Linked DNA regions of Homo sapiens: all the other regions are linked to region 4. The links come from fine-mapping of genetic effects on plasma protein levels. A gene starts in region 4. Each other region holds a variant in brackets. All regions are shown on one strand. Distances are between the middles of the regions. Region 1 overlaps LOC124901975 (a long non-coding RNA gene). Region 2 overlaps OTUD6B-AS1 (OTUD6B antisense RNA 1). Region 3 overlaps DECR1 (2,4-dienoyl-CoA reductase 1). Region 4 holds the start of DECR1 (2,4-dienoyl-CoA reductase 1).

The links. PIP is the chance, under the fine-mapping model, that this variant and not a neighbour inherited with it causes the effect. The UK Biobank Pharma Proteomics Project read protein levels with antibody pairs (Olink). The fine-mapping took linkage between variants from a reference panel, not from the people measured, so its PIPs are less certain.
Region 1: its variant is fine-mapped to the plasma level of the DECR1 protein (UK Biobank, PIP 0.95).
Region 2: its variant is fine-mapped to the plasma level of the DECR1 protein (UK Biobank, PIP 0.98).
Region 3: its variant is fine-mapped to the plasma level of the DECR1 protein (UK Biobank, PIP 0.97).

Annotation. Positions count from the first base shown.
Region 1 is chr8:90,508,450-90,516,613 of GRCh38, reverse strand. The region is part of intron 3 of LOC124901975 (a long non-coding RNA gene); the gene reads left to right. It also overlaps the pseudogene RNA5SP273. Among named protein-coding and RNA genes, the nearest start is that of LINC01030, 94 kb to the left of the region's middle. The variant T/C (reference allele first, on the strand shown) is at 4,978.
Region 2 is chr8:91,054,718-91,062,881 of GRCh38, reverse strand. OTUD6B-AS1 (OTUD6B antisense RNA 1) reads left to right here. Exons shown (of 3, transcript NR_110438.1): 3 at 1-2,976. Among named protein-coding and RNA genes, the nearest start is that of OTUD6B-AS1, 11 kb to the left of the region's middle. The variant A/T (reference allele first, on the strand shown) is at 3,460.
Region 3 is chr8:90,036,110-90,044,273 of GRCh38, reverse strand. DECR1 (2,4-dienoyl-CoA reductase 1) reads right to left here. Exons shown (of 10, transcript NM_001359.2): 6 at 7,334-7,433; 7 at 1,474-1,546. Among named protein-coding and RNA genes, the nearest start is that of DECR1, 39 kb to the right of the region's middle. The variant C/T (reference allele first, on the strand shown) is at 4,949.
Region 4 is chr8:90,000,502-90,005,170 of GRCh38, reverse strand. DECR1 (2,4-dienoyl-CoA reductase 1) reads right to left here and starts at 3,694. Exons shown (of 10, transcript NM_001359.2): 1 at 3,610-3,694. The coding sequence starts at 3,678. RefSeq lists enhancers at 3,068-3,207, 4,056-4,350 and a silencer at 3,678-3,777.

The DNA of each region.
Region 1 (8,164 bases), 510 kb before region 4:
TAACCTCCACCTCCTGGGTTCAAGCGATTCTCCTGTCTCAGCCTCCCAAGAAGCTGGGATCACAGGCATGCGCCACCATGCCCAGCTATTTTATTTTATTTATTTTTTTGTATTTTTAGTAGAGATGGGGTTTCACCATGTTGGCCAGGCTGATCTCGAACTCCTGGCCTCAGATGATCCACCTGTGTCAGCTTCCCAAAGTGCTGCGATTACAGGCATGAGCCACTGCACCCGGCTGACTTTATACTTTTTATAAAACTCATTTAAAATCAGGCTGAGAGTAAAGAGCTCTGACTCTGCTAGAGAGGCTTGGAGTATAGACTGAAAGTTCTCAGAATATAATACTTAATCTTTTCTTTGATGACAACTTTTACACATTTTACAGATAATCCCCTGATATCGCCTTCTGAGAGTTTTATTACAAAAAAACTTCATGTTCATTCATTAATGTGTGCCATTGAGGAAGGAGCACATAATCCCAATGTTTATGTGAGATGTGCCACTATTCCTTGGGCATACTGCAGTCATGGTAACAGGAATTAAAGGCACCAGTGTTGTATTTCATATAACTGATCTGTGGCCTTATTTCTGTTTGGAGGTGGAGGCGTGCTTATGCCATTAGTATCTGTTATCAAAAATTTCCATTGAAGGGAATGAGAAGTACTCCCATCCCCCTACCTCCAAAAAATAAGTGACTAGAGTAAATATTATTGATGAAAACAGATGATCTTCTGCTTTAAGTAAGCTTACAATACCAGTTGAAATGATCAGTGTGGAGCAGTGGCTTTCAGACCAGCAGCATCAGAATCACCTGAGACCTTGTTAGAAGTGGGAATTCATAAGTGGCCCCAGACTTACCAAATCAGACACTGTGAGGGTGCACTATAATAATCTGATTTGACAGGCCCTCTAGCCTGGTGATTCTGACACCTGATAAAGTTTGAGACCCGCTCTGGAGAGTAATGTAAACATGAAGATGACAACATAAGCATAACAAATAATCACATAGAGGTAGCAATATATTCAAATTATTTTGTAGCAGTATTCTACACTATTATCATAATTGTGTCTGAATGAAACTGAAGGTCATATTTGATCCCAGTCTTCACATAAAATCAGTCATATGTCTAAACAAAAGACAACAGATTTCTATTTTCTCACTGATGTAAAGAAAGGAGATTGCTCTATTGCCCCCATATCTACTTTATACTACGTGTCATGTGGGCTAGAAAAACCTGATAAGATCTAATTTATAACTCAAGATCCAATTTATAACCCAATTTACACATGAAACAAAATCAAAGGAAAAATAACAAAGATGCTAATTATAAACTGTATTTTATCATATGAAAAGCAATGACTTCTTTATATCTACTACATTCTTTTGTATTTTAATTTATTCTCCAATGAGTATAGATTAATTGTTCTTAATGATTGCTAAAGTGATACTACTGTGATCACAGACTGGAAATTTTCTGAGAGCTCATCTGAACTGTATATCACACCAGACTTACATGATGTATTTGCTTAGTTAAAATGTAATATGTATTCATTATTGCATCTTTGGGAAATACAGAAAATTATATGGAAAATAAGTTAACTGTAAAGCCCCCAGAATTAACCAATATTAATACTTCACATACAGTCTTTCAGTTTTTAATCTATGCATTTCAATGGAATTGACGTATGGTACTTACAACTTTGTATTCTTTGGTTAATCCAGCTCATATATCATAATTTTTTATGTTGTTAAGAAATCTTCACAATTATTACTTAATACAATCACATAATATGCCAACATATACATATACCATGATTTACTTATGTACTTATAATTTGGGGAATTAGAACTATTTAACTATTTCATTTCCTTTTTCTTTTCTTTCTTTGCAATTATGCAATTACATGTGTCTGTGATGAACATCTTTGCACATAAGTCTGTATCTAAAGTTTTGGTCAGTTACATTAGATGTTTTCCCACACATAGAATTATTAGGCATGGGACCATCAATATTTTAAAAAAACCTCCTGAGACTTATTGCTAACTTTTCCCTACAATACTGTATTAATTTATATGCTTATTGGCATTTTTTCAGAGGTCCTGTTTCATTTATCTTCACCAGCAAGGTTTTCATCTTGTTTTACTTACAAGTAAGTGGATGCAGGAGGATTGCTTGAGGCTGGGAGTTTAAGACCCAGCCTAGTCAGTTTAAGACTAAGCCTAGTCAACATAGTGAGACCCCATTTGGGAAAAAACATTAGCAAGGCATTGTGGTGCGCACCAGTAAGCCCAGCTACTCTGGGAGGCTGAGGTGAGATGACTTGACTAGGAGTTTGAGGGTGCAGTGAACTATGATCATGCCACTGCACTGGGTGACACAGAGACTTCATCTAAAAAAAATTATTATTATAAAAGTTATTTTATTACATTAATATGCATTTATTTTATTACTAATTAGGTTGAGCATGTATTCAAATATTTATTAACTATAGTTGCTTTTTAAAGAATTCTTTTTTCATATTCTTTGTCCATTTATCTATTAGAGTCTGATTGCTTTTCTTTTTTTTATTTCTAACTTTTAAGTTCAGGAGTACATGTGCAGGATGTGCAGGTTTGTTACATAAGTAAATGTGTGCCATTGTGGTTTGCTGCACAGATCATCTTATCACCTAGGTATTAAGCCCAACATCCATTAGCTATTCTTTCTGATGCTCTCCCTCCTCCCACCCCACACTCTGACAGGCCCCAGTGTGCGTTGTTCCCCACCATGTGTTCTTGTGTTCTCATAATTCAGCTCCCACTTGTGAGAGCATGCAGTATTTGGTTTTCTGTTCCTGTGTTAGTATGCTGAGGATAATGTCTTCCAGCTTCATCTATGTCCCCACAAAGGACATAATCTCATTCTTTTTTATGGGTGCATAGCATTCCATGGTGTATATGTACCACATTTTCTTTACCCAGTCTATCACTGATGGGCATTTGGGTTGATTCCATGTATTTGCTGTTGTGAATAGTGCTGCAGTGGACATACATGTGCCTGTATCTTCATAAAAGAAAGACTTATCTTCCTTTGGGTACATACCCAGTAATGGGATTACTGTGTCAAATGGTATATCTGCCTCTAGGTCTTTGAGGAATCACCACACTGTCTTCCACAATAATTGAACTAATTTACACTCCCACCAGCAGTGTAAAAGCTTTCCGTTTTCTCCACAACCTTGTCAGTATCTGCTGTTTTTTCACTTTATAATAATAGCCATTCTGACTGGTGTGAGATGGTATCTTGTGCTTTTGATTTGCATTTCTCTAATGATCAGTGATGTTGAGCTTTTTTTTATATGTCTGTTGGCCTCATGTAAGTCTTCTTTTGAGAAGTGTCTGTTCATATCCTTTGTTTAGCTAAAGAGAAGTAAAGTTTGATTAAGTTCCTTGTGGGTTATGGATATTAGACTTTTGTCAGATGAATAGATTGCAAAAATTTTCTCCCTTTCTGTGGGTTGTCTGTTCACTCTGATGATAGTTTCTTTTACTGCACAGAAGCTCTTTAGTTTAATTAGATCTCATTTGTCAATTTTTGCTTTCGTTGCAATTGCTTTTGGCATTTTTGTTATGAAATCTTTGCCTGTGCCTATGTCCTAAATGGTATTGCCAAGATTTTCTTCTAGGTTTTTTATAGCTTTGGGTTTTACATTTAAGTGTTTAATCCATCTTGAGTTGATTTTTGTATATGGTGTAAAGAAGGGGTTCAGTATCAATTTTCTGCATACTGATTTTTGGAACTTTTTTTGAGAATTTTTCTCTAATAAGAGTATTGAGATTTTGGTCTATATTAAATAATAATATTAATAAAAATGGGAACAGTCAATTATAAACCCAAGCAAAATTCAATATTAAGGCTTTTTTGCAAAGAGTGTCTTCTCAGACTGCTCAGTGGGTGGCCCCTCTGTATCCTGTGCACAATCAAAACACCTCTTCAGCTACAAGACATTCCTTTCTCTCAATCTCTGTAACAATCCTTCACCAAGACCTGTCATATTGCTTTCTCAGCATCTTGGATTCATCAACTTTACTTATCTCTAGCTAAACCATCATCAGTGATCCCCTGAACTATTTCAAGAACCTCCTGATTCCTAAAATTATATCTGGTCTCAATTTAACGAAAATATTATATCCCCTCCCCCTGCTCAAGCTTAAAGCCTTTCAGAGTTCATCTATTGTCCTTAGGATTAAGAAAAAGCTCTCTATTATGTCTTCTTCTCTAGTTTTATTCAGTGCTAGCTTTTCCCCTTTTTCCTGGGTCCATCACAGTCTTCTTTGAGCTCTTATTACCATGCCTTCTTTGGTTACAGGGCCTTTGCTAGTGTTCATCCCTCTTCCTAGAACATTCACTAGCACCTCGTCCCTTTACACTCCCTTCACCTTGTTGACTCCTAGCATTTCACAACTTTCACTTCTCAGCCCAAACGTTCTTCCACACCCAAATATCTAGGCTAGTTTCCTTTGATATGTGCATTCAGAGATCTGTGTTCTATTCCATTGGGGTACTTTTCTTATTGCAATTATATATTACTATGAATTTAATTAATATTTGTCTTTCTCACTATGTGGCTAACTTTGTATCTTCATGACAAGAAGAACAAGGTGTCCACTAAAGTTAGGCTCCTACCCTCACAAAGAGACTGGAAAATAGAGGTGCCATCTTCTTTGATGACTCCATTTCAAAGAGTTGGTTTCTAGGTCCTCGAGAAAGACATTCTTGCATTTACTGGTGGCAAGAGGCTTTTTAAAAGATTTATATCTCAAAGGGGTAGATAAAGCATTTATAAATATAAGTTTTCTAAAGCAAATGCTCTAAGAAAAGAGAGGTCAGGGTCTAGAGTTAGGGAGAAGCCTGTCTAAAGTTCAGCCAAACTGCAGGGAACCTTAGGGCTGTCTTGGCTGTTTGCCATCACGCAAGCTCCCTTCCTACCTGCTGC[T/C]CAGGAGGCTTGTGACTGGGTTCAGGGACTGCGACTGTTGATCAGTAGTCATTTCCAAGCAGTGACTCTGTTAGGGTGTGGGTGTGGGTGTGGGTGTGGTTTTTTTGAGACAGAGTCTCGCTTTGTCATCCAGGCCATAGTTCAGTGGCACCATCTCAGCTCACTCTAACCTCTGCTTCCTGGGCTCAAGTGATCTTCATACCTCAGCCTCCCAAGTAGTTAGTTGGAACTACCAGTGTGAACCACCATGCCAGGCTAATTTTTGTATTTTTAATAGTAGAGACAGGGTTTCACCATGTTGGCCAGGCTGATCTTGAGCTCCTGGCCTCAAGTGATCTGCCTGCCTGGGCCTCCCACAGTGCTGGGATTACAGGCACGAGCCACCATGCCTGGCCAAGCCTATAGCACCCGGTATTCCCAGGTGGTCTCCCATCAAAGTACTAACCAGGCATGACCCTGCTTAGCTTCCACATTCAGACAAGATCAGGCCTGTTCAGGGTGTTCGAGACTTCTTTATCTTCTGAGATTCTGCCCTAGAGTGACTGCATCTTCTCATCTTCCTCCCTCCAAATTCCTCCTCCTTTCATTCATTTTAATTTTACTTCACTTCTTCCCTTTAGGCTGATATTATCTAATAGCTTGAAAGCTTTTTGTTTTTTAAAAGACCCTGTACAGATGTCTCCAAGAAAAGAATCTTTGTCTTGAATTTGGTGCAGCCATTTTTTGAATCTTTGTTAGTAATGCGGTAAAAAGCTGGAGAGAGGGAAAAATGCCCTCTGGTTATGAGTGAGAGAGAAAGATAGAGAGAAAGATAGAGAGAAAGGGGTCAGAAACATCACATACAACCAGGTTCATACTTTGAGATATAACCTTGCCTCACACTCAGGAAGCTAAATCCTTTGTAGAGTCTTTTGGGGTTCTGCCTACCCTAACTTCTAATCAGGCTCCCTTGTCCAAAAGTAGTATTTGCTCTGTAAAAACTCTTCTCCCAACCTCTAGACTGTATTTCCACTGATACTTTAGATAACCCCATGCCTCACCCCCAAAGTGTGTTCTTAACCCCAGAGCCCATTCTTTTCTTCCCCCGGATATCAAATATTTACTGAGAACTGGGAAAGCTGCAACCATGAACAAAACAGAAACAGCCAATCCAATAATAATTTTCCACCCTCAGAGAATTTATATTTCAGTGGAGAGATGCTGATAATAAAATAATAAGTAAATGGTTCAGTAGAGCCAACAGTGAGAAGTACTACAATAAAACAAAATCAGAGAAGGAGCTGAGGAAGTGCCGAGACGGGTAACAATTTTACACAGAAGGCAGTCGGGCTAAGCCTCATTAAGATGATATTTGAGTAGAGACTTAAAGGAAATGGGTGACTGGAGGAAGAGCGTTCTGGGCAGAGTTTCTCAACTTTGGCACTATTGACATTTGGGGCTATTTCTTTGCTGTGGGGGCTATGCTGTGTGCATTGTTGGATGCTTAGCTGCATCTCTGGCCCTACCCACTAGATGCCAGTAGCATTCCTTCCCCAGTTGTGAAGATCAAAAATGTCCCCAGACATTGCCAAATATCCTCTGGGGTAGAGGGATAATAAATGCTTGTTGACTAAGTATTTTCTGAGCCTCCTTCAATGTCTCCATCATCTGAAGAAGAAGAAAAAACAAATAGAATGTAGTAATGTGTTTTCTTTTTTATTAATAGAAAGATTACTTCCTGGTTCTCGTGTATCATAATAATCTTATATCTCAGTCTCCCTAGTCTCCTGGGAGAGCCAGAGTTTGGTTTATTCTGTCTCTTCCTCCTTCTTAATTTAATCTTAATACCTTTCTCTCTCCTATATTCAATGCTATTTGTTACTCCTTCTTCTTTTTCTTCTTTAGTTCTTGCAAACTTACCTGTTAGAATTCCTCTAGTGAGATCTCTGGTGCTTGTCACTAGAGTAAGATCAGTTCTGTGAATCTCAGAGAACTTTAATAGATTCTCAAATATGTGAGGATAAGAAAAGGGCAGAGAAGAAAAAAGAGGAGAGGAGGAAGAAGGGAGTGATGAAGGGAGAGAAGATGAAAGAGAAAGAGATTATTTAGAGTAGACAATTTAGCCCATTATTATAACTAATAGAAAAGCAATAGCCCCTGTGTATTGGAGAACATACTGGTGGTGAATATTTAATTTTCACTTTGGTGATTAATTTGGTTTGACTTATTTATCCACTCATCTGATTTTTAGATTAGACTCCAATTTTTACCAATGTGCAATTACCTTTATTATCTGGCAGTTATAAATCAATAAGCAATAACATCCTTGCCTGAAAGAATATCCCCATCTCTGAACTCCCTAACACTTTATTTTTCATTATCTCATCATACTTATCACTCATTCTCTTTTATAATCATTATTGGAATATGTGTCTTCTCTCTTCTGTTAGATTACACAAAGATAGGAACTTTATCTTGCATACCTTTCTGTAAGCCCTTAAGTACCCAGTTTACTCAGTAAGTTCTACATTCTCAGGAAACAATAGAAAAATAGCATCAGGTAGCAATTTATATTTCCTGACCTAAACCACTCTATTAAATATACTTTCATGTAAGTCTTTTCTGATCTGCTTTCTGAACGGCTACCATCTTCCTATCCATGGCTAATTAAACTTCTGGTGCCTGCCCTGCTTCTGAGCCTCTCTCACCTCTCAGTAGACATCTGTCCATAATGTATTCCTTTCCTCTCTTTTATTTTTACCATTTCTCTCTTTACTGGCTTATTGGACAGGTGAAATGTTTGTCTTAACTATTTTTCAAACAAAGGGAGGAAAATGAGAGGAAGTGAAGTGGGTGGAAACGGCAAGGAGCAGGAACAGAAGGTCTCCATTTCCCTAATGACCAGGCCCTTCAGCGCTGAAACATAGCGTCCTTATCTTCAGGTTGTTTTTCCTTTGAGCATTCTTCCCTACTAACCTCATTTAATTAATAACTGCTCATTCTTCGAGACTCAGGCCAAGACACTTCTTTCAGGAAGTCTTCTGTGGTATTTCCAGATTACGTTAGGCACCCTTCTTCTGTGTTCACATAATAATTATCCTAAGATAGTTAGCAAATTGAATATAAGAATTGCATCCTTCATGACTGTATCCTTGTGTGGATAAGCACTCAATACCTACTTGTTTGCTGAATGGTTAGATTATTCCCA
Region 2 (8,164 bases), 1.1 Mb before region 4:
TTACATAAAATAATAACAATTAAGACATGGGCCTTGGTGTCAGAATTATTTTATATCTTTCTTATTAACTCTGCAGCTTACCAGCTCTGGATAAGTTAAAGGACAGCTATAGTCTTACTACATAGAATCATTATAAGGAATTGGTGGAGTGATCCTTATAAAGTGTTTGCATGGTACCTAGCACAGAGAAAGTGCTTGAAGTTGTTAACTGTTATGGTTACAAAATATGTAAATAATTTTTATTGTCCAATTTTCTCTCTTCATATACACTAAATTGTTCTAATTCTTGAACCACAGTAACAACGTGTGAATGACTTATGCATTCAGTGTGTCCACTCAACTACTATTTATTAAGTACCTGTTATGGTCTATGAAAGGAACTGGCAAGACAGTCATTATTCCCCTTAAATATTCCCAAGTGTTAGTGGTCAAAGTTTCTCTCTGCTGAAAATGAAAAGTACCCCGTAGGATGGAGGAAACAGCCATCTTGAGGGCTAAATCTGGTCTAACATAATATTTGTTGACCTGTTACTACAGTGTTGCCACATATGCTTTGTTGGTTTTTTAATTTAGCCCCCAAACATTTTAAAAATCAGATCATTTCATGTTAAAAGAAATCTAGACTTCTAGTTCTCTTGCAAATGTGAGCTCTGACAAACATTGAAATTATAGAGTAGCAGGGGTAGTGTGCCCTTTATTTGGTGCATGTCTTCTGCAGGTTCCCAAGTTCTGCTGTTCTCTGTTGTTGCCTCATCACTGAGGCCAAATGTCAGTTGCTGCTTACATGCATTTGAACAGTTGTTATTTTTTATAGTGAAATTAAAGGTAAACTGTTTTGATATCCATGTTTCTACCAAAGGTAAGAAAACACAAGCCAAAAAGACACAGATTTCAAAAAAAATAAGAGAAAGCATAATTCTTTATGGAAGTGAAGAATAGTCTTTTTATCTAAGTATGCCAAAAAAAGCATGTATAAAAAAATACAATTTAAGATGCCATTATGAAAAAACTCCAAGTCAGTGTTTACTAACATCTTTTCAGTTTTAGGAAGGAGGCAGGTTGTCTTGCATCTCATTGGATCTCCGGTACTACCTATTTCTTGAAATACCATAAGTGCTAATATATACTTGCAATAGATAAACATGAGGAGTATTACAAATACAAGAGATAGCAGGAACTATTTTAATATTAAGAGATATCAAATATGCACGCTAGGATTAATAAATGAAATAATTATTTTCCTTCTTCTACAATATTTACTTAATCTGGAGGCAGAAATACATGTTGTCTCTCTTCCTGCTTCTCCATCAAAATCCCGACCAAGTAATCAGGATCTTTGAGAATCACAATAAGAATTACAGCCTCATGTTTGGATTTTTTAAATTTAAATTTTAAATTACTCCTTTCCACTGATATTTATTGAGAAACTGCTATGCTCCAGGTACTGCGATAAACACTGGGCAAATGTTGGAGAGCTAAAAAGGCATATTCCTCTTATAAAGACATTATTTACTTGTAACAAACAAGTAAATAAATGTATTAGTCAATATGTAAGTAAACAAAAAAATGGACAAGCACAAATTATATTAAGTACTATGTAGGAAACCAATAGAGTACTGTAACAGAATAATAAGGTATATGGGATGGGGGTGGGAATCTGTTCAGAGATGATCTACCTGAGAAGGTAACATGTAGGCAGAGATCTGAATCGTGAGGAGTCAGCCTTTCAGAGTAAGTGGAGTAGGCACTTCCAAGAGAAAAGCATATTCCTGGCTATTTGCCTATCAATGTCATCTTGAACAAGGGTTAGCAATCTCCTACCTGTACCACAGATGCTATGTGCCACCTCCATGCTACCTTTGCCACCAAGAGATTCAATGTGATGCATGATTTGAAGGTTCCTCATCCTGATACCCTGTGGAAAGTAAAATCAGTGACAAATAAAAGCAGATCATTATCTCAGGTAGAGTCTGCTAAAGATGATACTTGCTTGTCAGTACATGAGTATCCACCCTAGTAAAAAACCACAGAAGAAGTGGGATTTATCTTCAATGTTCTCTCACTTCCCCTTCCAAGTGCCTCTCCTGCCTTCTGATGCTCTTTCCCACAAGTTGCAGGCAAATAAAGCATGTATATTACTCTCTTTTTATCCAGAGTTGCTCCTTGTCCTTATATGAAGTAGATTCCAGACCTCACAATTGTATATGCCTACCCTTCTACTCCAACCCCTCAAAAAAAGAGGAAGAATGAAAGAATGAACAAGAGAAAAGGAAGGAAGAGAGGGAGAGAGGAAAGGAGGGAAGGATGGTCCTGAAGATCACAGTTCGGTGCTGAAAAAAGCATTTCTATTAAACTTCAAGACAGAATGAATGACCATAGCTAATAATGTACCTTAAGCTTTTCTAGAATCTTTGTATTAAAAAAGTTGATTGTTACTAAATGTATTTTAATCTCATAAAATTTTAGGAATTTAAATGAAGAATTTCACAAAGGGTAAGAAAAATTATATATTATATTTATAAATTTGTCATTATGATTCTCCCATTGTGGAAAAAAAAACAAAATCTCGGTACCCCAATTCACAAAGCCAAAAGGAAGAAAGTAAGCTGAACGCTGAGTCATGCAAGAAACTGCTCGCTTTTGTTCCTAAGCTAATAGCTACAGATAAAAGGTCAGATATCTCCATAGGTAGGTACTCTATGTTCACCTTATGTAAAGTGCCAATTTATTGAGCGTAAGAGGATTACCTAATTGACTATTCCCCAGCCTGCTCCTTTTCTCTTGCAACACATGGAGTCAGCAATGGGACCATATCCTCTCTCTTTCCCCTCCAGCCTGCTTTCCCCCTTTAAATACTGAAGCCCTCAAAATCATCTTTCTAAAAAGGTATGAACCATAGATTGTTCCTGTGGATTTGTGTTTCTTTCTTCCGGGCATATCCTTAAGCTTGGCAAAATAAAATTCTAAATTGATTGAGTCCTGTCTCGGATGCTTTTTGGTTTACGCTATCAAGGTTTGGAAGGCTTAAGACATGTCATTAAGGTACTTTATTTCCTTCTAGCATTTTGATTATACTGAAATTGGGTAATTAGTGGTGCCTGTTTTGAGTAACATGGTGAGTAGAATTAAGAATGGAAAGCACTGGGAAAGGGAAAACAAAAACACATCAAAGATTTCCACCTTTACTTCCTTAGTTTTTTTAAAGAAAAATTAAATGTATTATCTAATCACAAGCTACAAATTAAAATATTTGATTTACTTTTTCAGCAAAAGTTATAAATTATCGAATAGAAATTGGGAAAAGATATGTCATTTTTAACAGTGTTAAAATCTTAGTTATACTCATTTGACTAGTTAGTACAGCTCTTATTTACTTATTCTACAGACAGGTACACTCTTTTATCCTTGTATAGAAGTTACTTTAATTTTTTAGTATTTAAGTTATCCTTAAAATACAAC[A/T]TGAAGCTATTTTACCATATATAATTTACTTAAATATTCTTAAAATAACATTACTTTTAAATAAAATATGTATGTGAATTTAAGAATTCCTTTCTCTAACTCCAGTCCTCAAATGTGACCACTGTTAATAAATCCACTTAATATAAATATCATAATACAAACAGCAGCTGCGTGATCCTTACAAGCTGTGTTAGTTTCCTTGGCCTGCAGTAACAAAGTATCAAAATATGGGTGGCTTAAAACAATAGAAATGTATTATTTTATAATTCTGAAGGCTAAAGTTTGAAGTTAAGATGTCAAAGCCATGCTCCCTCTGAACACATCAGTTCTCTCAGATTTATTATTTCCTTTCCTTTGCTAAATTTAGGTTTTATTTGCTCCTTTGTGCCTAGTTTTTTAAAGTGGAAGCTGAGGCTGTTGACTTGAAATTTTTTTTCTTTCTAATACAGACAGTTTCATGGGATAATTTTTTATTTGAGGATTGCTTTAGAGCATTCCACAAATTTTGGTTTGTTGTGTTTTTTTTTCCAATTCAAAGTACTAATTTCTCTTTTGATTTCTTCGTTGATACATGAGTCATTTAGCATGTGCCTTTTTTGGAAAACTTTATGTTTTGATTTATTTTAGGCTCACTTAGAAGTTGCCAAAAAAATAGAGTTCCTTTATACTCTTCAACCAGCTATGCTGCCGTAAAAAAAAATAAAATAAAATTATGTCCTTTGCAACAACATGGATGCAGCTGAAAGCCATTATCCTGAGTGAATTAATATAGAAACAGAAAATTAAATACCCATGTTCTCACTTACAAATGTGAGCTTAACAATAGGTATGCTTGGATATAAAGATGGAAACAATTGACCCTTTTTGGGGACTCCAAAAAGGGGAGAAGAAGGGAGCAAGGGATAAGAGACTGTCTATTGAGTACTATGTTCACTATTTGAGTGATGGGTTCACTAGAAACCCAAACCTCAGCATTACACAATATACTCATCTAACAAACCTGCACATGTACCCCCTGAATTGAAAATTAAAACACGTGTGCATGCGCGCATGCGCACACACACGCACACAGAGGAAACTGCCCCTGATGCAATACTATTAGCCATAGACTATTTGGATTTCACCAGTTTTACAAGCATTCTTTTTGTGTGTTCTGTACAATTTTACTGCATGTATAGATTTGTGTAACCACCCCAAAATCAGGGCACAAAAATGTTCCATCACCTTGAAGAAACTCCCTTGTACTGCCTCTTTATGGTCATACCCTCATCAGAACTCCAACTTCTTCCAACCTTCTTATCATCCTTAAACTTACTTCCTCATCTATGCAGTTGTTCTGGCCCTTTTAAATGTTCTTTTATAGTTTGAATATTTTGTTAGGAGAGTCTTAGCTAGTACACTGTTTTATTATGTTAATTTTTGTGTAGTTTTTGCTTTGTGGATAATGAAAGGGATGTTTTTCTATTCTATTTTCTATCTTGTTACTGCTGCTTCACACAAATTACTGGTCTTTCTAGCTGCTTTTTTTCTTTCTTTTTGGTTGCTCTCTCTTCAATTCTTGTTTCTTTCTTTCTCAGTCTTATCTCCTTGTCAGAGGAAAAAAAATGTATTTTTCCTTTACTCATGATGAATAATTTTCTGACTTCTGTTTCCCCACCTTCTAATATCAGTGCCCAGAAAGTATAGGGCAGGCTGTTACAGGGGTTAGTTAGCACTGTCCAAATGGTCAGGAAAAACTGTACTGTGTTCTAGATCAAATCCGTACCCAAGGGCACCTAATCTAGCTGTGGAGGTACAGTGGCAAGGTTATCAGCCCATCATTAGTGGGCTAATCAAAGTGATTCCCCAAACATCGATTTCTGACAGAAATTCTATATTCCTAAAAAATCTTTAAAAGATAGTTTTGACAAAAAAAAAGAGATAGTTTTGACTAGAAAAACTGCATCAGAAAATTTACAAGTATTTGATCAGAGACCATAGCAAAGGAAAATGTGAAACATTACTATCAAGTTAAAAGGTTATTGTAAGGCAACAGTAACTAAAATTTTTATGTTTACTCTTGACAACTATTATAGTAGTGCATGAAATTATTAGAACAGTGACTATTTTCCTTTTCAAATTTTAAAACCAAAAGTAAAATTCTTTATTGTATAAAAATAGAGATTATAATGCAGACTACCAAAATACAACATATGTATAATTTACCCTAGAAAGGAAAAAAATATTAATTGTATTATATCTACTCCAATTTAATTATGAGGTTTTTTTAAAGTTGTGTCTTCAGTGAAGATAAGAATCTCATTATGTTAATGGCTCATATGAAGGGATTGGAATAAATAATTCAAATAATAGGTAAAAACCTTTGGGAGAATAGAACAAAGACATGGAAGGCAGCTAAGATAAATGACCAGCTGCAAATAGCCTTGGTGGAAAGATAAGGAGGAAGAGGAATAGTGTAGAATTGAGGAAATGATAAAAGTGAACAGCCTAATTTTCAAATTCAAGAGGAGAGCATCCTAATAGAATTGAACAAGATACATTTTTGCAGACTCTGACTAAAAACTAATTATTAAAGGATTATCATAGCTACCACCATCTGTGTATGGCTTCATACTTCTCAACATAAGCAATCTCTATATGAGAGGCAGACATGTTTTAAAAGAAAGGATTTGGGACCAGATGTTTTGGATTGGGTTTCCAATTTCAATACTTAAGGCTAGTAACATAATGAGTGTTTCAGTGTCTATCTCAGTAAAATGTATATACTAGTAGTGTCTGTTTCAAGGATTGCTTTGAGGATAAATTGGGATGATTCACAAAATGTAGTAAGCCCTCATTAAAATGTGTTAGCTAGTGTTAATATCAAAGATAACCCAATTTATTGTCAGAAACTTTTTCACTTGAGATATAAATAAAGTATGAAAATCCTTGGCTTCCCCAATTGGCTCAGCTTTGCATCTCTCCCATTTTTGACCAGGGCTAACCTGTAAACCTGTGTAAAAAAATAAGTAAGACAAAATACATTTTTTAAAAAAACAAAACAAAACAAAACAAAAAACGTATCCACCAGGGCCATGGTCAGGATATCATCTGGCCTCTGCTTAGGAATTCTGAGCTTATCAACTTGTGTCCTCCAAGCCACAGCTTTCCCCCATATTTTCCCAGTCTACATGTGCCTGGGTGTCTGCCACACCCACCCCCAGCTCTGATTTCTGCTGCTAACTCTTATGCTCTTCCTTGAATTTAAACCTACTTCACTAATACCCAACAACCTGTGGAGCCCAAGCTAACCCTTTCTCCACAGGTTAGACCTGGGCCTCTAATTATTGGCTTCTAATTCTTCATCAGCTGGTTCAGTGCTCTTCTGATTTGAATTTCAGTTCTTCCTAGATAACCTTGCCACTGTACCTCCACAGCTAGATTAGGTGCCCTTGGGTACGGATTTGATCTGGAACACACTACAGTTTTTCCTGACCATTTGGACAGTGCTAACCAACCCCTGTAACAGCCTGCCCTATACTTAAATAAATTCTACGTATTCTGCTTACTTTTGATACCCCACCTTTCCCTTTCAAACCAATTATTATTTCCTAGGATACCTCTAGCAAAACCAGTCTCAATTGTGGTATAATTGGGTATAAACCTGTGGAGATGTTTCATGAGATAAGAAATTGAGGGTTGGATATATATGGCTCAATAGTATTATCTGTCCCACTTATTTATTACACAGGTTTACTCTGAAGTGAGAATCTATATACAAAGCATCTTTTGCATTATAAATTGTATGCACATACATACGACATTTCATTTCTGGCTCACCCTTCCTCTGCCTTTCTAGTCATGCCTTTGTTTCCCTGGTATGAATATCTAATTATATTGTTCTCCCTCACTTTCTTATTTCTCTTCTTTCTTATCTTCTACCCCCCATCCCCTATGTCCCTTACATTTTACTTTTGTCATCCAATAGGTTCCCATTTCTATATGAAAGGTCAGCTCTTCTCTGAGTCCAGCTTTTACACTAGCTCTCTTCCTCTCCCTGGTGCACATGATAGGACTGAACAATCAAGGCTTAAGACCTAGTAGGTGTACGCATGTTCTCACTCATAGGTGGGAATTGAACAATAAGAACACATGGACACATGTGTGCCGCCCACCCCGGCCTTCCAAGGTGCTGGGATTACTGGCGTGAGCCATTGCGCTTGGCTTAATCTTTTAAGTTTTTTGTCTTCTATGTTGTCTGGGCTGGTCTCAAACCTCTGGCCTCAAGTGGTCCTCCCACCTTGGCCTCCCAAAGTACTGGGATTACAGGCATGAGCCCTCATGCCTGGCCTATATTTTACTTTCTTCTAAAATTTTAAAGCTTTATATTAACCAACTCATATTAACTAAGCAAAAAATTAAGAAGAGTTGAGATTTTTCTCTGAGAAAATATATGCACTGAATAGTTCATGACTAGACTAAATTTAAGAGTCATAGAAAAACCATGGAAGGGGCTTGCCTTTGTGTTATTGTGTCGATATATCCTTCTGTGGTAAGTAGAATAAAGGCCTACCAAAGATGTCCACATTCTAAACCCCAGAACCTGTGAATATGCTACCTTACATAGTGTCTTAGTTCATTTGTGCTGCTATAACAAAATATTTGTGACCGTGTTATTTACAAACAAATTTATTTCTCACAGTTTTGGATGCTGTAAAGTCCAAGA
Region 3 (8,164 bases), 37 kb before region 4:
CTAGTGCCTTGAAGTTTAGGTGGCAGTTTTCCTCAATAATGCAGCCATAAGACAGAACAAACACTCAGGGGACTCCATGACAGACCTCCAGTTCTTCCCAGGAGGTTATAAAGCCCAGAGACAAGGGGTTGCAACTGGTCCCAGTCCTGGTTCTAAAAAGTGCATGCTAGGGAGTTTCTACACTTCAGTTTTCTTTTAATCTCTTTAACAGTAAGTAGTTATTATTTGGGTACAACTCCTATCTCAGTGGCTAGACTGTAAACTCCTTAGTGGCAAGCACTTTCTCAGAGATACTTCTGTATCTTTCTCAGTACCCGTAGATACAGTGAACAGTCAATAAATATAGGTTAAATAAATAAAATGCAGGTGATTTTTCCCTAGATATTGGGGTCTTGGAGAGAAGCGTTTGTGTCTATAAGCCTATTTTCAGATATGCTTAGGACAGGGCCACCCTGAATCATGTGTTTTAATGTATGTTTTTAAGTTTCTTTCCACTAATTTTATTAGACTGTTTAGTATTGAATTGTCAGATAAATAAGATAGTCAACAAGTTTCAATCACTCAGGAAGTTTTTGTTTCTATTTCCCATCCTTTAAACTGCTAAATAAACTAATATGGCCATTTCCAAGTTATTTTTAATACCCAGAGCTACCTATAACCCAAAAGTCCTTTAGTATTATTTTCCAATATGTTTACACAACTGAAACAAGTTACCAAATTTTTCCTGGTCTTTCAACATTACATCTGGTTGGCATTATAAATACTTGCTTTAGGTGAAAACCAAGAGAAGTGTGAGTGAAGTTATTTTGGGATAATGAGAGAGCAGAGAAGGTGTGGATATTCTGAGCAACATCTGTAACAACATTAGAGATAATTACAAGTTGCAATGAGTATCCACAAGGATTATTACTTATAGGTGAAATCTATGCTGTCAGAAGGACTTATAATCAGAGACATGTGGGCGTTAGATGACATGCATAATTGACTGAGAGTGAAAGGGCACAAGCATGAGTCAAGGAAAATGCTACCTACCTATAACAAGACAAAGCCTATATAATAAGTTACCAAAGCATCTCTCAAACTAAAAATATAGTTACATTTCCTTGATTTTTTTTAAAAAAGGATGTCAGACAATGTAGGAGCCTTTAAAATGTCATGAAAGTTAACAAATACAGGACAATAACAGACCACTGAAACAAATCAGACAAAGTGCCAACATTGATGGTATAAAAGATCCCAAACGATTAAGACACTGAAATTGACATTATGAAGAAATTGCATAGCTGCTATATTCCTGCCCGCCTCCTTATTTCTTATATTCGATAATGAATAAAGGCAAAGGCCTCTTCCCTAGAACCAGGGCTCTAAACCTAGGCATCTCTGGAAAGTCCTTTACACAACAACCAGAATATACCTATCAGTGTTTCATTATTTAATCATTCACAATGTGATAACAAGCAAAATACAACTTACTTTGGTTTTTATAGGCCCTGGTTGAATCACATTGAATCGCATTCCATATTTACCCCATTCAGCTGCAAGAGACCTAAAAATTAAAATCAACAACATACATTCTGAAATATTATACCATATGTTAAAGACAGTAATAACTGAGACTCACTAGATGCTTACTACATGCCAGAGATTACAACCCCAACAGGTAGGTACTATTATTGTTCCCTATATTACAGATAATGTAACTAAGGCACAGAGAGGTTAAATCATTTTCTCTATGTCATATGGCCAATTTGTCAATCTCAAGAGGTCTAGCTTCAGTCTGTACCCTTAGTCACTCTACTGTACAACCTAACCTTTACATTTTAGTGTCCTTAACCACTATGCTACACCACCTACCATTTGTAGTTTAGAATATATACTTTTGTCCAATGTCAATACACATTTTTAGAGTAGGTATTCATTATTCACATAAAAACGTGAGTGCTTCATGCCCTTCCCTCACATTTTCTGGAGTTCAGTCTTGTAGTTACAAAGTTCATTATAACTTTACTCATAGCCCTGTACATTGGATTACAATGTCTGTAATATCACAAGTGCTTTATTTGAGTAAAAGAGTACATCGATTGAAAATATAAACCACATCCATGTCTAACTAGGCTTTAATATAATTGTTGAACCAAACTTGAAAGGAAATAGGAATCTAACAAAATCTTGCTTAATGTCCTGAAGAAAAATATAACACTAATAGCAAACAAAGAACTTCAAAGGAACTTGTTTTAAAAGCTTACTTTACAGGTAGCTCTTTTAAAATCTAAATTCATTTTAGGAATTTACATTCATATGTATATTTGTGTGTATATATACTTAATGTAATTTCAAATAATGACGAGGTAGCTTAAAAGAATTCATATAATGCAAATGAGGAAGACAGGATAATTTGAAAGGAAGAAGGAAAGAAAAAAAGCAAGATAAAGAGAGAGAAAAGCCAGGATAACGAAATATAACGGAGCCAAGAATGAGGCTAATATCTAAATGTACTGAAGTGTGTGATGTTCCATATAACTGCAATAGTCACATCACAAATTTGTATCTATTCTTCCCATGACTCTATACAAAAAAGGTAAGCCTAATCAGTTACACAATCCACAGTACCCATAAAGAAAAAGCAAGCTAATTGCTCAGGAAAAGCACAATTGTCTCTAATACGAAAAATGCTTTAAGTCTTTCTAGACTTACAAAAGGAAAATTGTACAGTATAACAATCTCCTTAAGACACTGTATCCTTGCAATAGATAAAATGGGCTAAGTTCAAACTTGACAAATGGGATCTAATTAAACTAAAGAACTTGTGCACAGCAAAAGAAACTATCATCAGAGTGCACAGGCAACCTACAGAATGGGAGAAAAGCTTTGCAATCTATCCATCTGATAAATGGCTAATATCCAGAATCTACAAAGAACTTAAAGAACTTAAACAAATTAAACTTAAACACAAACAACCCCATCAAAAAGTGGGGGAAGGATATGAACAGACGCTTCTCAAAAGAAGACATTTACGCAGCCAGCAAACTATGAAAAAAAAAGCTCATCATCACTGATCATTAGAGAAATGCAAATCAAAACCACGAGATACCATCTCATGCCAGTTAGAATGGCAATCATTAAAAAGTCAGGAAACAACAGATGCTGGAGAGGATGTGGAGAAATAGGAACACTTTTACACTGTTGGTGGGACTGTAAATTAGTTCAGCCATTGTGGGAGAGAGTGTGGTGATTCCTCAAGGATCTAGAACTAGAAATACCATTTGACCCAGCCATCCCATTACTGGGTATATACTCAAAGGATTATAAATAATTCTACTATAAAGACACATGCACACATATGTTTATTGCAGCACTGTTCTTAATAGCAAAGACTTAGAACCAACCCAAATGCCCATCAATGATAGACTGGATAAAGAAAATGTGGCACATATACACCATGGAATACTGTGCAGCCATAATAAAGGATGAGTTCATGTACTTTGCAGGGATGTGGATGAAGCTGGAAACTGTCATTCTCAGCAAACTAACACAGGAACAGAAAATCAAATACTGCATGTTCTTACTCATAAGTGGGAGCTGAACAATGAGAACACATGGACACAGGAAGGGGAACATCACACACTGGGTCTGTCAAGGGGTGGAGAGCTAGGGGAGGGATAGCATTAGGAAAAATTCCTAATGTAAATGACGGGTTGGTGGGTGCTGCAAACCACCATGGCACATGTATACCTATGTAACAAACCTGCACATTCTGCACATGTATCCCAGAACTTAAAGTATAATTTTAAAAATGCGCTAAGTTCTATGAAACTATCAGACATCCGTTAATAGTCTTATAGCATCATTTCAAAGGCCAATTCAGTAAAACCAGTTCTACAGAATAGGGTACACGTAATCTCAAGATAGCCTGTTAATCTGACTTAATCCATGAATGTATTTTAGAGAAATGGGTGGGCTGTATCTCTTTCAGACAGAACATACATAAAAATTGCTTCTCTGAGTGATGTTTTTGACAAAGTTCATTGCCATAGCTACCCTGGGCATTTATTTATAGTGTATCTACTCTAAATTGCTTCATGTCTTAATAGAATTACTGTACTGAGCAGAGTCTATATTATCCTATGAAAAACTGAGCAACCTGTTAAGAAAATCTGCCTAGAGGAAAAGCCATCCTCTCTGTGCTCAGAGGTGTGCCAGATACATTTGTTCAATTGCTAGCATGATCTTTCAACTGTCATTAAGCTAGCTGATATACTGAAGAACTACTGTAATCTGATAATGAATCCACCTCATACAGTTATCTCTGCATGTTAAGATGCTAAGAACAATATATGCAATATGTTAGCCATTATTATTGCTCATTCAACCAATGTTTATTATATACTTACCATGTGTCAATACTATAAATATTGCTTAGCCTCAAATAAAGTCAGTCCCTGCTCTCAAATGAGAGTCCCTCCCTCTCAAGAGAGGTGAGCCTGGTTATATAATGAATCAGTTACTAGGCTGGGAATTGTGTGATGTAAGCTATACCTGCTTAAAAGAAGAAGAACCTAAGTGGGAGTGACAAGGAAGGCTTCTCTGAAAAGGTAACATTCTGAGCTGATGGGTGAAGAAGGATTAGGAGTTTGCTGCAAGAGGCAGGGGAAAGGAGGAGCTGAGAGATTAAGAAGGTAGGATGGTGACATGGTTTGGCTCTGTGTCCCCACCCAAATCTCACTCTGAATTGTAATAATCCCCACATGTCAAGGGTGGGACCAGGTAGACATAACTGAATCCTGAAGACAGTTTTCCCCATGCTGTTCTCATGATAGTGAGTGAGTTCTCACAAGATCTGATAGTTTTATAAGGGGCTTACCCCTTCACTTGGAACACATTCTCTTTCCTGCTGCCCTGTGAAGAGGTGCCTTCCACCATGATTCTAAGTTTCCTGAGGCCTCCCTAG[C/T]CATGTGGAAACTGTGAGTCAATTAAACCTCTTTTCTTTATAAATTACCCAGTCTCAGGTATTTCTTCATAGCAGAGTGAGAACGGACTAATACAGATGGAGAAGGAAGACAGCCAAGGCATATGGGTCAGTATGAGTAAAGGACAAGGGCCCAAACAACATGTAGAATTTGGGAACCTATAATGCCTTATTTAGTAAGACTGTGTACTATAAAGTATGAGAAGAAGGTTGATGGGAACTCAAGCTGTAAAGGAAGGCACATGTTTAATGAGCATCTATTATATGCAGGAACACAATAAAAGCAGCACCAAATCAGTTCTTAAAGGACATGAGATAAAAAGCTCTAACAAGACTGAAGAGTCCTCACAAAACAAATATTGACATTGAACAAATGCTGCCAAAATAGTCAAGTTCTCATCCTTTATTTCCAACACTACCTGACCTTAAAAAATGGTAATTATCTCTTTTCAGACTAAGATTCAGCTTGTGAATAAATATTTCTTTCTATCTCAAACTAATGTGTATTTACTGACTTAAATATTAAAAATGCTCTGGGACTACTAAAAGAAGAGTACCATAATTCAGCTCAACAAGCATGAAGCACCAGCTACGGACCAGACTCTTCTGGTCCAAGTGGGGAAGTCAGATTGTTTAATGTTACGTTAATGGAGGAAATCCCATCTCTACTAAAAGTACAAAATTAGCCAGGTGTGGTGGCATATGCCTGTAATCTCAGCTCCTTGGAAGGCTGAGGCAGGAGAATCGCTTGAACCCAGGAGGCACAGGTTGCGGTGAGCCAAGATGGCACCATTGCACTCCAGCCTGGGCAACAAGAGCAAAACTCCGTCTCAAAAAAAAAAAAAAAAAAAAAGGCCCGCGATGCCCTGCTCTCTCTCTCTGCTACATTGGTATATTACCTTCATTTTAGAATCTATTTATTAGTGTTTGTCCTCTCACTAGATTGGATTAAACAAAGTTTTAAGGCACAGAGAGGAGGAAATGATTACAGAGAAAACATCTCAAAGGAAGTAAGCAAAACATCACAGCAAAATTCCAACAACAATATAACTCAGCCATAGACATATGAAAGCTGTATGGTAAGTTTAGGGAAACATGGAACAGTTCAATGGAAATTAAAGCATGGAAATAATAAATGGAATAGTAAAAAAATTTAAGCTCAGCTAACAACGAGGACTGTTCTATTTCCATCACTATCATATCCCTAGGACGAAGCATATATAAGGTACACAATAAATATTTATTGAATAAATAAATTAATTAACAATGGCCAGAGACAAGTCTGTTTAGAATGCCATAGTGAGTTCTGGCTTTTATTCCAAAGAGTGACAGGAAATGATCTAAGATTTTTAGCTGGGGAGTGTCGTGAGCAGACATATATGTTCTTAGAAAGATAATTCTGGTGAAAATGTGAATACAAAATACAGGGGGAAGAGACTGGTAGTAAAGAAATATACCATGATTATAGCAAGCCAGACAAGCAATGAAATGATGAGAAGCCCCATTATAATAAAGACAATGGAAAAGGCCAGTGGAGGACAAATTCAAAAAGCAATCATGGCTGGGTGTAGTGGCTCATGCCTGTAATCCCAGCACTTTGGGAGGCTGAGGCAGGAGGATTTCTTGAGGTCAGGAGTTCCAGACCAGCCTGGGCAACATAGCAAGACCTCATCTCTACAAAAAAATTTTAAAAATTAGCCAGGCGCTGTGGCACCTGCTTGTAGTCCCAGCTACTTGGGAGGCTAAGGTGGGAGGATCGCTTGAGTCTGGGAGATTAAGGCTGCAATAAGCTGTGATTGCACCACTGCAATCCAGCTTGGGCAACAGACTGAAGTCCTGTCTCAAAAAAAAAAAAAAAAGCAGTTATACTCTGCTGAGAAAAGGCCACTGGACTTGGGAAGTGCTCATAGTCTGTGTTAGTCCCATTAATCTTATACAGTATCTACAATAAAAGAATAAACGTGTGCTTATGAGAGGGGTTAGGGATGGCACTGATAAAGATCTATGGGAGAGCAAAAAAGCTATAGTCCTGTGGTGTCTAATATGTAGCCACTAGCCATATACAGCTACTAATTTTTAAAATTTAGTTTCTCAGTCACAGTGGGATATTCCAAGGGTTCAATATCTACATGTGGATACTGGATAGTGCATATTTACAGAACATTTACATCACTGCAGAAAGTTCCACAGGACAGCGCTGCTATAGACAAATAGGACTTATCTGGGAGATAAAATGTATGTCTCATGGTGAATCCAAGTCTTTGTTTACTTTTCTCTGGATGGACACCAGAAAGCAGGAATACAGTTCCCTGAGCCACCAACTGTATTAGTTATGTTCAGCAACAGGATTGACAAGGAAGTACTTACTTGCTCATGGCTTCCACACCTGCTTTGGCAGAAGCACTTGGTACTACAAAACCTGAACCAGTCTCAGCATAGATAGTAGTAATAGAAAGAAATGCTGCTCCTGAAATTTTAAAAGGATACAGTTGATTAGCAATATAGATGTATCACTACACATAAGGAAAACATTATTTATAAAAATGGGATCTGATTAAAGAGGGTATAAGAAAAACTAAAGTATTTTTTAAAACTTCACTCACTCTAAATTAATGAGAGAGTAACCTAAGAAAATTGATATGTCTTGCTACTAATCTTATGATTTAGGATGGCCCAATCTGCACTTACTTGGAATGTATGCCTGGCGAGTCAATACGAAAGCCCAAATCTCAGAGGCATGCCCCTATTGCACCTTGTATAATCAGCTGGTCAGGATTCCCATTAACTAAGTACTACTTGAATAAGAATAAATCAGAATTAAACTTAAACTAGCAGGGACTTCTGCCTCCAGCCATAATGAACTTACCCTTCTGCTGTAAACATCAAGAAAACTGAGTAAGACATATGCTACAATTATATACAGATACTGCACAGCAGGCAGGGAAGGACTATGACTCTGATAGAAGGAAAATGACTAAGCCCTGAGATACCCTAGCTTTTTGCCTAAAGATACTATATAGATGGAAGGATGAGGAGGAGGAATCTAAGCAGAAAATGGCATTCACACTGAGTTAAGAAGATAGAGATCGGTTTGGGGAGCCTGAGGAAACTAAGGTTTCTAAGAGTTCCTCCAAGGAGGAAAGTAGGCAGAGATATTAATAGAACTCCATAAAGCTGCATGGAGTCTCAAAGAGTCTT
Region 4 (4,669 bases):
TCCACAATACCAAACAAACCACTTGAATTTTTATAAATAAGCCACTCTTTCACTTCTTGATACATGCTATTCCTTAGGTCTATATTGCCATTGGGACCACACAAATTCCAACTCCTGATTTAACAGCAGGCTCCTGGGGCCACCTCCTCCATGAAGCTTTCCTTGCCTCCTCTAGGTATGTACAGTTTGGGTCATATATGCATTATAATACACATCTGCATCTTCACAGTCTATTGATGTCTGCTGGTGACTCACTAGACTATCATTTTTCAGATTTTTCTGACTGTGAACCATAGCAAGAAATGTGATTTATATAGCAACATACACATGTTCATAGCAACACAGTACACACGTTCATTCATGTAACAGATATTTGTTACATGTTTACTCTATGCTAAGCACTGTTCTAGGTATAAACAGTGGACAAAACAGTTGAAAATCTTTGCCTGCATAGAGCTTATATTCCAGAATTTTACACTGAATAAAGAAATACTTAGGCTTCCAGATTTAAAAAAAATAAAGAAAACACATCTAGTTGGTTTTATACTGCTCCAAGACAATATTCATCGTGAGAAAACAATGAAACAATGTTGACTAAGGGAAAATGTGACATCCAAGTAAAATTATGCCTATCCATCCTTTTACCAGAACAGATGCCTGGAATGATATACACCAAATGCTAACCCAAGTTAATTCTAGGTGGCCAGTTTGAGGTCATATCTTACTTTGTTAACTGTATTGCTGAATATTGGCCAGGAATCATTTTTCTAAAAATAGTGATTTTACTCTTGATAGTTACTATTCTTTTTTTTTTTTTTCTTTTTGAGATAGAATCTCACTTTGTTGCCCAGGCTGGAGTGCAATGGCGTGATCTTGGCTCACTGCAACCTCTGCCTCCTAGGTTCAAGTGATTCTCCTGCCTCAGCCTCCTGAGTAGCTCCTGCCTCAGCCTCCTGAGTAGCTGGGATTACAGGCACGCGCCACCACGCCCGGCTAATTTTTATATTTTCAGTAGAGACAGGGTTTCACCATGTTGATCAGGTTGGATAGTTATTACTCTTGATAAAAACAAAAGGAAAAGAAACATGGCAGTGTGCATGATAGTAATCAAAGAATGAATCAAAAAAGGAAGAATGGTAAATTTTTTTTTTAAAGTTTCACAAAATGAACAACCTTACTACATGAGATGAATTTAGATATATCCTATTCTATTCCATTTTTTTGTTTTTGAGATGGAGTCTCACTCACTCTATCGCCAGGTTGGACTACAGTGGCGCGACCTCAGCTCACTGCAACCTCTGCCTCCCAGGTTAAAGCGATTCTCCTGCCTCAGCCTCCCAAGTAGCTGGGACTACAGGCGTGTGAAACCACACCCAGTAATTTTTGTATTTTTACTAGAGACAGGGTTTCACCATGTTGGCCAGGATAGTCTTGATCTCTTGATCTAATGATCCACCCGCCTCAGCCTCCCAAAGTGCTGTTTTGCTCCACTAAATTGATTTCAAGGCCTACTCATTGGTTATTATTTGTGGCTTAAAATACATATATGAGACTATAGTACATTGAAGGCAGGAATGTCTTTCAACCACAAATTGCCAAAGAATGCCCAATACTTAATAGGTACTTAATTAATTAGTGTTTCCTCATAAACAACTGAATGACTGAATGTTTTCCTCAATAGAACTGAGAGCAACTTGAGAACAGTTGAGAGCAGGGCTCGTATTTTTTAAATTTTGAGTCCCAGGGCATAGCACAGGGCCAGACATAAAGCCAGTCCTCAATAAATATTTATTAAATTGAAATGAGGCCTATTAGCCAGCAGCACAATTTAACACAGCACTTCACAAACAGGTTTTATAACAAATTAAACATTTGCCTTGGTTCTTGGTAACAAAAATATTCAAATTAGGGGTTTTAATTATAACAACTTGTATTTGCCCACAAAAACATGATGTTCCCTGGAACAACCTCCCACATCACAGATGTAAAGACTTTTCTTCTCCCAGGAATTCAAACTTGAGGCTACATGTGCTAGGAAGGGGACAAACCACACTAACAGGTACCTCTCTTGCCTCCCAACCCTGAACCTCAAAACTTCCATATTTTTCTTCAGCAAAGGAATTTCAAAATTGTCAGATTACAATTAATTTTTAAATGAGTTCATTTTCTCCTTCTCAAACTGTATTGTCTAATGGTGTCAGAAGAGCTTGGATAAGGTCTGTATGACCTTATTGCTACAATCCTAATGATGTGTGTTAAAAAATGAAATCTCTGAAGACATCACAGAGCTGTTGTAGATTTCAAATGAGAAATGTCTCTGAAAAGTATCAGAAAATATGGGCTTCCTTTATAATGATCTATAACCCAGTTTTCACAGGGAGAGAAAAAAAATCAGCAAAACCCTAACCCTGAACAAATCTCACTTTTTAAAAGAAAGATACCTTACTTGAGGGAACCACCATACTAATTCTTTGTATTCCTATTTGGAACTACTGCTGCCCATATTTTTTGAAAAACAACACCATGGCTGTCTATTCTATCAAATCAAAAGAAGTTTTTTCACAGTTGACATATTAATTTTTCTACCTGGCTAAAGAAAATGTGCTTTTTAGTTTACTTATAACAATTTTGTAATTTAGATGTGGGGAGGGCTTGTCTTGGATATTATTGCTTCTTTTTGTTTTTGTTTCTCTTTCTTCTTCCTAGCTGTTTTCACTTCCTAGCTATTTCCACTATGGGTGCAATGGAGATGGTGACAGGAGTGTGGGCCAGAGAGAGGGGGAAGCCAGTGTGAGACGGACCTCTCCCAGCTATACATCTGGGAAGGGGAGTCTATAAACAGCTGGGGTTTTGTTTTTGTTTCATTTTTATGATAATTTGTTTGTATTAGTGTTTAATTCCATAACTAACACATAGATGGACTTTCCTCACAACAAAGGACGTCAAAGGTCAGTGCTCGCTCGGCCTGATCCCCTCTCACTCCTTAAGGGGTGGACGGGCGCCGTATCCTTCCCTACCTCTTTCTACCTATTTACACACAAGTTGGAAACTTGCAGAACTGTGAAAACTTCGAAAATCACGTCTCTTCCCTATTCCCCTACACACATCAGGGCTTCATCTGACAGTGGAATACGACCCGGGCCCCGGTGCTCACTCCCGGCGTTGCCCTTCGCTCCGGGACCTGGTGGTCCTCTCTCTCTGCGCCCCAAAACGCCCTGTCCTAGCTCCCTGAGCCCCAGGGACGCCGGGTCCTCTCTTTGTGCCCCAAGACTTCCTGCCCTTTCTCTTGCGCCCCGAGACGTCCTGTCCTCTCTCTCGCTCCCCGGGTTGCTCTGTGCTCTCTTAGCGCTCCAGAACGCCCTGTCCTCTCTCTTTGAGCCCCGGGACACCCTGTCCTCGCTCCCCGAGGCCCCGGGACGCCCTGTCCTCTCTCTCTCTGCGCCTCGGGATGCCCTGTCCTCGCTCCCCGAACCCCCGGGACGCCCTGTCCTCTCTCTTTGCGCCCCAGGATGCCTTGTCCTCGCTCCCCGAGCCCCCGTGACGCCCTGTCCTCTCTCTTTGCGCGTCGAGACGCCCTGTCCTCGCTCCCCGCGCCCCCGGCCGCCTTACCCTCCGAGGAGCGAGGCCACAGGGCAGCCGGGACCCCAGAGTAAAGAAAACCCTGGCCGGTAGCTTCATGTTGAGTCTCCAGAACTCGGGCCGGAAGGCGGCGCAGGCGGTTGGGCGCAGGGGGCGGGACAAAAAGAACAAAGTTCTCGGGGCTGGAAACGCTGCCTAGGCCGCCGGGGGATGGGACGGGGACTGGGACCCAGGCGGCGTGGACGCCCAGCGGCCCTGACCTTCAGAGTCCGGCCGAGGGCGCCGCCTAGCTGGGCCTAGCTGATGCTCTTTCCTGCTCTCTGGGCCAGGAGTGCTTTGTATGGCAGAGAATGGAGGTTCTTTGCGTCCTTGAGCGGGTGTACGAAACCCCGCGCCCTGCAAGGGTTTGCAGATTGCAGCTGCGCACCCCATACACTGCCTATCAAGGGCGAAACTCTTTTTCAGTCGTATGTGTTTATCCCTTAAGTGCGTGTTTAAGTGCAGAGTGCGCGTGGCGCCAAGTCACATATTATCAGAATAATAATATGTTGGATGTAAAACACGGCCTCACTTTCCCTAAGACCAAGAGGCTGAAAAACACTAAGGGCAGCTTCCGGCGTTTTGACTTTTCGCAGGACACACCGCCCCCTGTCGCCGGATGCAGCGTGACTGCGACCGCCCAGCCTTGGCTTTTTTCTCGAAGTTAAACACACGTTAAAGGCAAACACAGATTCAGTATATCATTCTCCATCTTAGTGTAATATACCTGTTGACACAAGGCATTAGCTCAGATCACATTTCTTTCCTCATTCGTAAAATGAGAATATTCATAGCTAATTCAGAATTTTAGATAAAAGAAGATGGGTGTGAGGCCCCAGGCTGAGGCTGATGGTAGATGATATTGAGTGTTTACTATTTGCCTGGCATGTTCCAAATGCTGATAAAGAAACATTTATATCTTCAGAGGAATGTACACTTACATGTAGACATATAGCTTATAAGGTATATAAACTCTGAAAAACTTTGTAATTTTGAGTTGGTCTGGTGATAATTTCCAGGCCTTCTGCCTGTAACTGGTTACAGAAATAAA